Linked DNA regions of Homo sapiens: region 2 is linked to region 1. A link means that fine-mapping ties the variant in region 1 to the expression of a gene that starts in the linked region. Tissue or cell type: whole blood. Region 1 holds a variant in brackets; the other region holds the start of a gene. All regions are shown on one strand. Distances are between the middles of the regions.

Region 1 (5,147 bases):
GCAGTGTGGTGCCAGGAAGGGCCTGGGGTTTCCAGCCATTCCTCCTCTTCTGAAACCCAGGTGCAGCCGCCTCCTGGCAGTGTGGCCCTGGGCAAGTCACTCAGTCCCTGAGTCTCAGACTCCAGCTCCATAACATGAGACAACAATGCCCACATACTCCAGGGTTGCTGAGAAGAGGGAACAGGAATAGTGCAAACAGGAGTCCTTTGCCAACTATAAAGTGCCCTGCAAATAGTATTATTACACCCCAGGATAGGTTTGCATCTTAACAATTAACTGTGAATTTTTTTCCACCTCCAGTCATTTTTATTTGTTTTTAAGCTTTCCTCTCCCCAACAATGGGCCTTTACCTTTGAGCCAGTATTACTGATTCTAACTCACCTTCCATGGGTAAATTCACACACTTAGACCTAAACTGCTCTAAAAAGAAAAAGAAAAACAATCAAGGTACATGACATTAAACCCTCACATTACTCCATCCAAAGTCAGGAGCTTCTCAATCTCAATAGTCAATAATAATATGAGCAAGGTATCATTGGGTATCAGTGGGTTAAGGTTCTGCAAGCCCATTTTACCCTCTTCTGCTCTTTCCTATTTGAAGATAGGTTCCATCCCAAAATCTCCCCAGTACTCTAGCAGATGCAGGCAAAGAAAGTGGAGGTGCTCATTGAAGGGAAAGAGAGGGAGAGGTCATATCCCTTTGCATTAGCTGTGTAATAAGTCATCCTGATATCTTTCTTCCCTTCAGAGTCTTAGACTGTGGTAGGCAATCATTATTTTTGCTATACGGGAGGGAAAGAACCCAGTCCAGGGAGTCAGAAAGATCTGGATTCAGTCTTTATTCTACAATGGAAACATCATTTATCCTTTTTTTTTTTTTTTGAGATGGAGTTTTGCTGTTGTTGCCCAGGCTGGAGTGCAATGGCACGATCTCAGCTCACTGCAACCTCTGCCTCCCAGGTTCAAGCGATTCTCCTGCCTCAGCCTCCCTGTAGCTGGGATTACAGGCACCTGCTGCCATGCCCTGCTAATTTTTGTATTTTTAGTAGAGACAGGGTTTCGCCATGTTGGCCAGGCTGGTCTCGAACTCCTGACCTCACGTGATCCACCCACCTCAGTGTCCCAAAGTGCTGGGATTACAGGTGTGAGCCACCACGCCCGACCCATCACTTATCTTTTCTAAGCCTCAGTTTTTACAGCTATAAAATGGAGATACCACTATTTACCTCACAGAGTCGTTTTGTTTTGAAAGATAATGTAGCAGATGAGGTGTAATCAATGATATTAGGGAAACCCTCTTTTACACCAGCTTCATTTTTCCATGTGGATGGATCCCCACTAAAGAACATGACCTTGCAGCCCCACCTTCTCAACCACCCAGTGCATCTGGGTGAAGGATCATGAGCACATGTGGCTCAGCCCCTCTTTCTTTCTTGAAGACAATGGGGAGAGAGTTGTTTGGGTCTTCTCACCTATGATAAAATGTGTTTCCCTTTGCCCTTAGTCTTGGCATAAGCCATCAGACCCATTTTCCTGAACTAGTGGGCAACTTTAAGGTAAGGGTGACTTGCAGCCCCGTGCCAGCTCTACATCACACACTCCAGTATCACAATCTCAGAAGTAAAGGTGTTATTTTGATCTCTTTCTGCCTGATTCCTTTGTCTATATCTTAATTGTTTCTGGCTCCAGGAGAGGGAGACTTTTTTTTTCTACTAGCTCCATACATTCCAACAATAGTTATTATCTCAACACTAAACTAAGTTATTTCCTCATCTTTCTATGCCCACAGCCCAGGGGAACTGTGGACAGAAAAAATGGAGACGGACACTCCCCTCCACTTACTGTAGTTCTCTGCCAGGACAGGCACCAGACCACATTTCCCTGCTATGTAGATGAATCCTGCATCCAAGCTCATGGCATCAGCTTCCCCTTTCTGAAGTTAAGAAACAAATCAATAGCACAATAGCTGTCTCCTGGGCCTCTGACCCTCAGAGGTTCTCATTTCACTGGCTTCATGTAAACATCCTTGTGATTAACCAATTGTGGATCACTCAAAGCTTCTGCCATGTAAACACAGGGTTTAGAAAACTGGACATGCTCTTGGCCTGTTGACCTGGGAACAAGTTCCAACCCAGGTCATGCCCCCTGGACATCTCTGTGTCCTCTGATGAGACCCATGCTGCGTCCTGGATATGACCTCACCACCCCTTCTTTGTGGCTATAGTCACTCAACCCAGCAATTAACATGGCCAGACTCAGGAAATGCATTTAACCTGTTTCTATGGGATATGTTTCTTCCAGATAATGGAGTTCAAATCTGTTCCCATAATCCCACTAGCACTGTACTCAGTGCCTGGCACAACAAAGATTTTCAATAAATAATTCATTTCTCTAGATAATACACTAATAATTCACTTATTATTTTAATCAATTAATTTTTCTAATAGAGTAAAAAATGTATACTTATAGATAAGGTCACCAAGATAAAAAC[A/C]TGCATATACATGCTCTTTGTTTTTGACCTTTTCACTACCCTTCTAGAAATCTAAAAACAGTGACTACAGCAGCAAAAACTTACCAAGCCTTATTATGTGCCAGGCTCCTTTCTAAACACTTCACAGTGATTACCTCATATATTCCTCACAAACTTCAATAAGCTAGATACTAGAATTTCCCCTCTTTTATAAATGAAAGCAGAAAGGTTAAATTTGTCCAATCAACAGCGGCTAAGACTTAAACCTAGGCAATTTAATTCCTTGTAACCACTATTCCAGATGGCCTCCAAGATCTGTCTACCCTAAAGCACGTTTCCCTCAATACTATGCTATTTACATGTTTTCATCCATAAGTTGGGTAAAAATTATACCCTATAGGTTTATCATGAAGACTAAATGAGTAATACAGTTTAAGAGCTCATAAACATGCTTGTCACACAGTAACTCCAGAAAAATTAGTTACCATTAATATTAAAGATATACTCAGAAATATAGGCATTTATAGATACAAAGATTTTTCAATCCCACATTGTCTATAATAGCAAAGGATTTGGAAATAACTCAAATATAAACACTGAGAAACTGGTTAAATGGAGGCTAACATACTTGGTGGAATATTACATAGCCATTATTTAAATGAGTGTTTCATTATTTAAGAAAATATACCAACTGTCCCTGGGATTTTGAATAATAATAACAGCTAACACTTAGTTACTGCTAACTATATGCCAGGCAATGTTATATGTACTGAGATTTACTTAATCCTTACAATTGACACATTTAGTAGACTACATAACCATCAAGATCTTAATCTTAGGAATTGGTGCTAGGAAGGTTTACCAAGATGAGGGTCTTCTCAAGTTAAACAAAACAAAATGAAATGGTTGCATAGCCTTCTAAGTTTGTCAAATTTTCATTCTTTATTTATAAGTTTATTTTTTCCTAATCACAAAAATAGTTCTGCTCATAAAGTTAATAACAACACAATTTCATCGCTCAGAGATCATAATAAATAAAATAAATAAAATCATTCACAACTTCGTCACTCAGAGATCATCATCACATAATCTCTGAGTGATGAAGTTGTGAATGATTTTATTTTTACTTTCTGATTTTTTTAGAGACAGGGTCTTGCTCTGTCACCCAGGCTAGAGTGCAATGGTGTGACCATGGCTCACTGCAGCCCTATTTTTATTTATTTATTGTAATATTTTATAACCAGAAAAAATAAACTTACAATTAAAGGATTGAAAAGGTTGATCTGCTTTCACAATTCACAGTAGCCCTGACCATAGCCCGGAATGTCACCCTACTTCCTGGGACTCCTAGGCAAGACACTCCCCTGAGCTAACTGGACTCCAGAGCTGAGCCCCCCAGGAGTCCAGCTCTTGGATTGGCTCTGTGTTTCTGCCCTGCCCAGAGCTGGAGGGGCCTGTGGGGTGGGTGGGAGGCAGCACACAACAGGTGTCCTTATCCTGGAGGCTGAGGAAGAGGCATTTGGGAAGGAGAGCTTCAATGCCAGATTTGGCAGAAGTGCTGTGTGTCTGAGTGTCTGAGCCCAGCCTTAAAAGCAGGGCCCTCCAACTGTGATGGCAGTGATGCAGTCCTCTGGGGTCTCCTCCATGGTGCACGCCAAGGCACCACCAGTCACAGCACTCCACTCATCACACTTGGCCCTCTCATGGTGGCCCACTGCGCACCACCGCACCCTGGGGAGTCTTCCACATCTAGGCCGGGTGGAGGGATCCAAAGGAAGCCCCAGGTAGGTCTGGGAGCTTAGCGCTGCAGAGTGGCTGTCCAACAAGGCCTTCACTGGCAGCAGCAGAGCTGACATGTCTCATTCCCATGACACTGCTAATTCCTGCCTGTCACCCTCCAGGAGAAATGGGGAACTCACTTCTCAGAAAAATCAATCAGTGAAGACAGAGCTTCCCCCTGCTCCTGACCTCAGCTCCTCAGGCATCACCTCCCCAGGGAGGCCTCTCTGAGCACCAGCCCAGCTCAGGGTCTTCTGGGGTTTTCTCTTGCAAGACTGGGCTCCCCATCCAGGAAGCATGTCCCACTTGGCAGTCACGAGTTCTGTTCTGGGTGGGCCTGCTTGCTCTCCCCTCACCCAGTGTCTTTGCTCACCACCATATGCCCACGTCTAACACAGTGGCTGCCCTTCTGTAGATGCAAATACCTACTGGTTGACTAAATGGAGGGCAAAGCTAGAAGAAGGAAAGAAGGAAGAAATAAACCATAGAGATCCAGTAGATGGCCAGACCAGAAACCTCTGGATGGTGGTAGTGGCCACATTCCCACTTCAGTTTAAGATGGACTATTTTTATACTCCATGTCGAATAGACTCACCCTGGGTGGGATGACCCCACCTAATAAAAAGGAGCCAGGGCAATCATGTCTTCAAGTTTTCTAGAATATGAAGGCCATTAAAGCCACTTTCTAATCACAGAAAACCCCCTCATTAACCCAATGCAGTTAGTAGCTCCCTTGGGCTCTGCAGGCCAATAAACTTTGGGTGAAGCTTGCAGGCACCTGGAAAGCCTCCCATGATGGCCCCACCCCACCCTGCTGCCCAAGCTGGCCAGGTCCCTCCCGGGACCTTACATACCTCTTTTTGGATCCTGAGTCGCGGAAAAATACTCATATCCCAGG
Region 2 (5,147 bases), 130 kb after region 1:
GAAACCAAAATTTTATCTTCAGAAAAGTGCTATTTTGCCAAGTTCAACATGGCCAAACACTATTCTTCCAGTCACTCACGTTTTCAAGAACCTGCAGTCACTTAGGAAAGAAAAGACTTAAGAAGAGCCAAACTTTACAACAGAACCGGAGCCACACACACAGGCAGTTCCACAACACCAAATGGTAAGAACCTCACATTCCCTCCTCCCCATTATTTACAGGTCAAGCCCCAGGAGACAGAAAAGAGAAAGACACATTAAGGAAGCCAACAAGTGGTTGGGAATCAAACTCAAGTCTAATCACTTCTACTCAACACCACTACAAAGAAATCTCAAGAGTGGAGAAGCCATCGTTCCTGAAAGTTTCCCATTATCAATCTGGGGGTTTCACTTTGGTTAAGCTCACAAAATGATGTTTTCACAGTAGGACATTAATGCCTAGCTGTGGTAGGTGTTCAACAAATGTCAATAATATTAACCCTGCTTTTTGAGTAAGTTATCTAAAGCTATAGATACTAACATCCAGAGAAGTCAAAAGACAGTTTTCAGTTAAGGAAAGTATTTCCTCCACTGTGCCTCGCACTCACTGGCATTGCCTATAAAATGCAACCTTCAAACTGGAGACAGTTTATCAAGATCCTTTATTTCTTTAAACCGGGAGCAAAGGATTTTTTCATCTTACAGCAGAACCATATCTTCATTTGTTTTTTCCTACTTTATGAACCCTCCAAAATATAGCACTTACTTAACATCAACCTTAAAGTTGACTGCCATAGACTGGACTTGACAAAATGTTAATTTCAAATCTTCTAAACTACCCAATTTTTAAAAATTACTATTTTTTTGAACTTTAAAAAATAACATGTTTACAAATATAATTCCATTCCTATGAAGTTTTAGAAAAAATTATGGTGTTAGAATAGTGGTTATGTTGAAGGTGAATGCAGTGAGTATGTGTTAGGAGGGGAACCTTGTTCTGTATCAGTAATACTCAGTTTCTTGACCTGGTGCTTATTGCACAGGTTGGTTGCACTGTGTGAACACATAAAACCTCTATCTCTCTGTAAGTATGATATACTTCAATTACAAAAACATATATTCACTTGCTTATTGGAGAGGATGTGAAAAACATCCACATTACTTTTGAAACCAAAACTAAGTACAATCACCGATGTTAAAAGTAAAAATTTTGAAGCGACAAAATCCACTTTAGCTGTCTCAAATGAAAAGTCCTAACCAGAACTGGAAGTAGGCAAGCTCTCACAGGATTTTAGAGTCAGCAGCTAATTTCATGAGCACACGGAAGGGCTGCCTCCATGGAGTGAGAAAGAGTAGACAGAACCCATTTGAGTCCTAATAAGCATATCTAGAGCACAAGGCTACTATGATGCTGCTTTGGGGCCAAAGGAAAACCTAACTTGTATCCAATATCTATCCCAAAGGTTATCTAAACACATTTGTAACCAGACTATACCTTATTTGCATTGCCTGAACCCTGAGGCCGCTGTAATCAACCTCTTTTTGCTCCAATTCTTTCCATTCATCTTCGTCCTGTAAAACAAACGCCATTTGATCAATTAAAGCTATTTGTAGACATATAACTAAGCAAATAACACACTACGAAAAGTGGATCAAGTGGCTGGAACCTAAACTAAGTATGTACTTGTCTTCTGGTCAAAGCCCTTGCTTCGTTCTGGGGCAAACTAGGCTAAATGGAGGACAAACATGCTCGTAGGCTAACACTATACTTCCGCTGGGTTCCTGCATGGGAGCTGTTACTTTAAGCAACTAAGAAAAGCCGAAGGAAGAAGTCAATAGGAATTTCACAACTACATTTCTACTTCAACCTTGCCACCGAGAGTTTTCTTTTTCTTTCACGGGCTTAGAGACTAAGTCATCACAAAAGAGCTGCTACAAATGCGGCTGCTGAAAGCGAAAATTCAGCTCAAACTACTGGGCTGAGGTCAGCACACGGAATTACTCAGCCTAGACGTCACCCGATAAACGCTGCTCTGTGCTGGGCACTGCGGCCCCAGACCTAGTGCCCCCGGAGGGTGGCGCCGCCCGGGCCTTGGCTAACGCCGAGCGACGCGGGGTGGGAAGGGCGGCTCCACCGCGGATATCGGAAGGGGTCCCGGCCCTGGCGAGCCCAGCCCGAGGTGGAGAGCCTGCGTCACGTGGCGGCCCGCGCCCGTCCGCCCGGCCTCCGCGGCCCCTCCCGGACGCTTCCCCGGCAGGCGGGGGCGGGCACATGGGGCGCCGGCGCGCGGCCCGGGCCCCGAGTGCCGGCCTCCCGGCCCCTCACCTTCGTCACAGCCTTGGTGGCGGCCCCTGGGCCCGCAGCCCCCGCGCTGGCGGTCCCGCCGTCACCCGGCCGGGTCCCCGCGCCCGCCCCGCCGCCCGCCGCACCCGCGGCTCCACTGCTTCCGCCGGCGCTGCCCGCTGCGCCCGCGGCACTCGCCGCCCGGTTGCTCCGCTCCTTCTTCTTCTTCTTGTCCCTCTTGGCAAAGAAGTTGTCCAGGCTCCGCTCCTCCGTCTCAGCCATGGCCTCGGCCTCCTCGACCCGGATGGGTGGGGCCGGCGGCGGGCGCGGCCCGCGGGGCTCCGAGCTCGGGGTCGAGGCCGGCTCTGCGCTCACGCTGCCGGGCGCGGCGACGCCTCAGCCCCGCGGGGTCGCCGAGGCGTGCGCGGCGAGACGGGCGGCTCCCCCTGCGTGCTGGCGAGCGGTGGTACGGTCCGCCCGGGGGCTCGCGCGCCGCCGCTGTCGCCCGAGGCTGCCGGGGCTGCCGCTGCTGCTGCGACGGCGGAGCAGGATTCCGCTCTCCCCACAACCTGAGGGGAAAAGGCACGCGCGAGCCAGAGGTTCTGGCGAGAGTGCTCGGCTAGCAGCGGCGCGTGCCGGAGGAAGAGGCGCGCGCGCAGGCCTGGAGAGGAGGGGAAGGGAGTGGGGAGGGGAGGGAGAGGGAGGAGGGAGGGCGGGCCGCTAGAAGAGAGAGGAAGCGCCTGCGCCTGCGTATTTTGCTCTGCCTGCCGCTGTGGGATCGCCAAGGGGCGGGCGGCGGGAGGAGATGGAGGCGGAGCTGGAAAGAGAGCCAATCAGGTGCCAGGACGAAGCTCTTAGGTGACAATCCCTGACCCAGACGGGGCGGAGTCCAAGCATGGGGGCGGGGAGAGGAGGGCATATGCAAAATAAGTGACGTGCCGGGCGACTCCGGTTTCCCGATTGGCCGAGGGTTTAGTCTTGAGGGCGGGCATGTTGAGGGCTGGTTGATGACTTGGCTAAAGAGGTCCAGCAGGAGGGGCAGTGGGTTCCTTTTGGACGCATGCGCAGGATGCACGTGTGTTTCCTGGCCCAGAACAAACCGTGGCCCCATAGTAGTCGTTTGAACTGTCGCGAAACGGACAGGCACTGCGTTAAGCCAACTGTGTTAAAGATTGTTCCTCTCCTCTGATCGCTTCTGTACTTCCACCCCCTCTGGAGTGGCAACCATTACTTTTCTTCTTTACCGGTTGATTGTGAAAGTGAGAGGAGCAGTGAGCCTGAAGTTTAGGTCCCATTTACTAAAAGATCTTTCATAGGCTGGTTGGTAGGTAGAAAGGGATTTTGTCTGAACTCCACCCTCTGGATTATGTTTACCAAGGTCAAGTTCAATAAATCCTATCGTCAAGTCCCTAATCTGTAAAGTGGGTATACTATTTCTTACAAGATAGGGGGATGGAGGGAAGAGAGTCAACATTATTAGCTGCTCAGCACATTGCTTAACGCCCTGACTTGAGTCTAGATGATGATACAGTTTATCCTTAGCTTCTATCCCTGATAAAAGGAGGGGACTGTCTTATCATAGGGGTGGAGACCAAAATGCCCAGGCGAAAGCCAGGTTTAAATGGGTTTAAAGCCCATTTAAATACCCTTGGGGCCTTGAAAATGAAATGAATTCTATATGCAAAAGGTGGTCTAAAGTAAGCTCTTAAACTTTCTACTTCCTCCTTCTAAAAGCAGAAGAGGGAGCTGTCACAACCATTGAGGAAATGACTCAGACAAATGTTGGTAGCCATATGGGGTAGATAGAATCCAGCCAGTAAATGGAGAGACTTCTTCGTCTTTTCCTTTACAGTTACCCCATTAAAGTTTCTCTTTTCCTACCCCCTACTTACACTGCTATTAAAGAATTAACTTCTGGCTGGGCGCGGTGGCTCACGCCTGTAATCCCAGCACTTCAGGAGGCCGAGGCAGGCGCATCACCTGAGGTCAGGAGTTCGAGACCAGCCTCACCAAAATAATGAAACCCCGTCTCTACTAAAAACACGAAAATTAGCCGGGCGTAGTGGCTAACGCCTGTAATCCCAGCTACAGGTTGAGGCTGGAGAATTGCTTGAACCCGGGGGTGCGGAGGTTGCAGTAAGCCGAGATCGCCTCATTGCAATCCAGCCTGGGCAACAACAGTGAAACTCCGTCTCAAAAAAAAAAAAAAAGTCTAACTTCTGAATGTCAAAAGAAATCAAGGACCTAGCCTTGGCCAGCAAGTAGCTTGAGCTTATACATATACTATTCCCCAAACATGAACAGCTCCCAAGGTGACTTCCTTCTATGACAACATATATCTTCCTGTGATGCAGGCCAGGTTCAGTACTGCCCATCACCATCACCCTCCCTTACCATCGCTAATCAAATTTATTTTCTTTCTTTTTTTTCTTTCCTTCTTTTTTCTCCCTTCCTCTTTTCTTTCCTTCTTTTCTTCCTCCCCCCTCTTTCTTCCTTCCTCCCTCCCTCTCTTTCATTTATTTATTTATTTATTTACTTACTTATTTTTTGAGGCAAAGTCTTGCTCTTGTCACCAGGCTGGAGTGCAATGGCATGTCAGCTCGCTGCAACCTCTGCCTCCCAGGATCAAGCGATTCTCCTGCCTTAGCCTCCTGAGTAGCTGGGATTACAGGCACCCGCCACCACACCCAGCTAATTTTTGTATTTTTAGTAGAGACGGGGTTTCACCATGTTGGCCAGGCTGGTCTCAAACTCCTGACCCTCGTGATCCACCCACCTCAGCCTCCCAAAGTGCTGGAATTACAGGTGTGAGCCACCATGCCCGGCCCTCTCCCTCTCTTTCTTTCCTCATCTATGAAGCACTTATTTTGCTATATTTCGGGCA

The links. PIP is the estimated chance that this variant, and not a neighbour inherited with it, causes the effect.
Region 2: it holds the start of CDV3, and the variant in region 1 is fine-mapped to the expression of CDV3 in whole blood (TOPMed, PIP above 0.99).

The regions. Positions count from the first base shown.
Region 1 is chr3:133,701,010-133,706,156 of GRCh38, reverse strand. It overlaps a transcript of TF not described here and the pseudogene INHCAP. Among named protein-coding and RNA genes, the nearest start is that of TOPBP1, 42 kb to the right of the region's middle. The variant A/C (reference allele first, on the strand shown) is at 2,492.
Region 2 is chr3:133,571,443-133,576,589 of GRCh38, reverse strand. It overlaps CDV3 (CDV3 homolog), which reads right to left and starts at 2,904. Exons shown (of 5, transcript NM_017548.5): 1 at 2,306-2,904; 2 at 1,475-1,551. The coding sequence starts at 2,545. RefSeq lists silencers at 1,936-2,325, 2,356-2,465, 2,486-3,025 and enhancers at 3,406-3,575, 3,232-3,733, 3,676-3,915.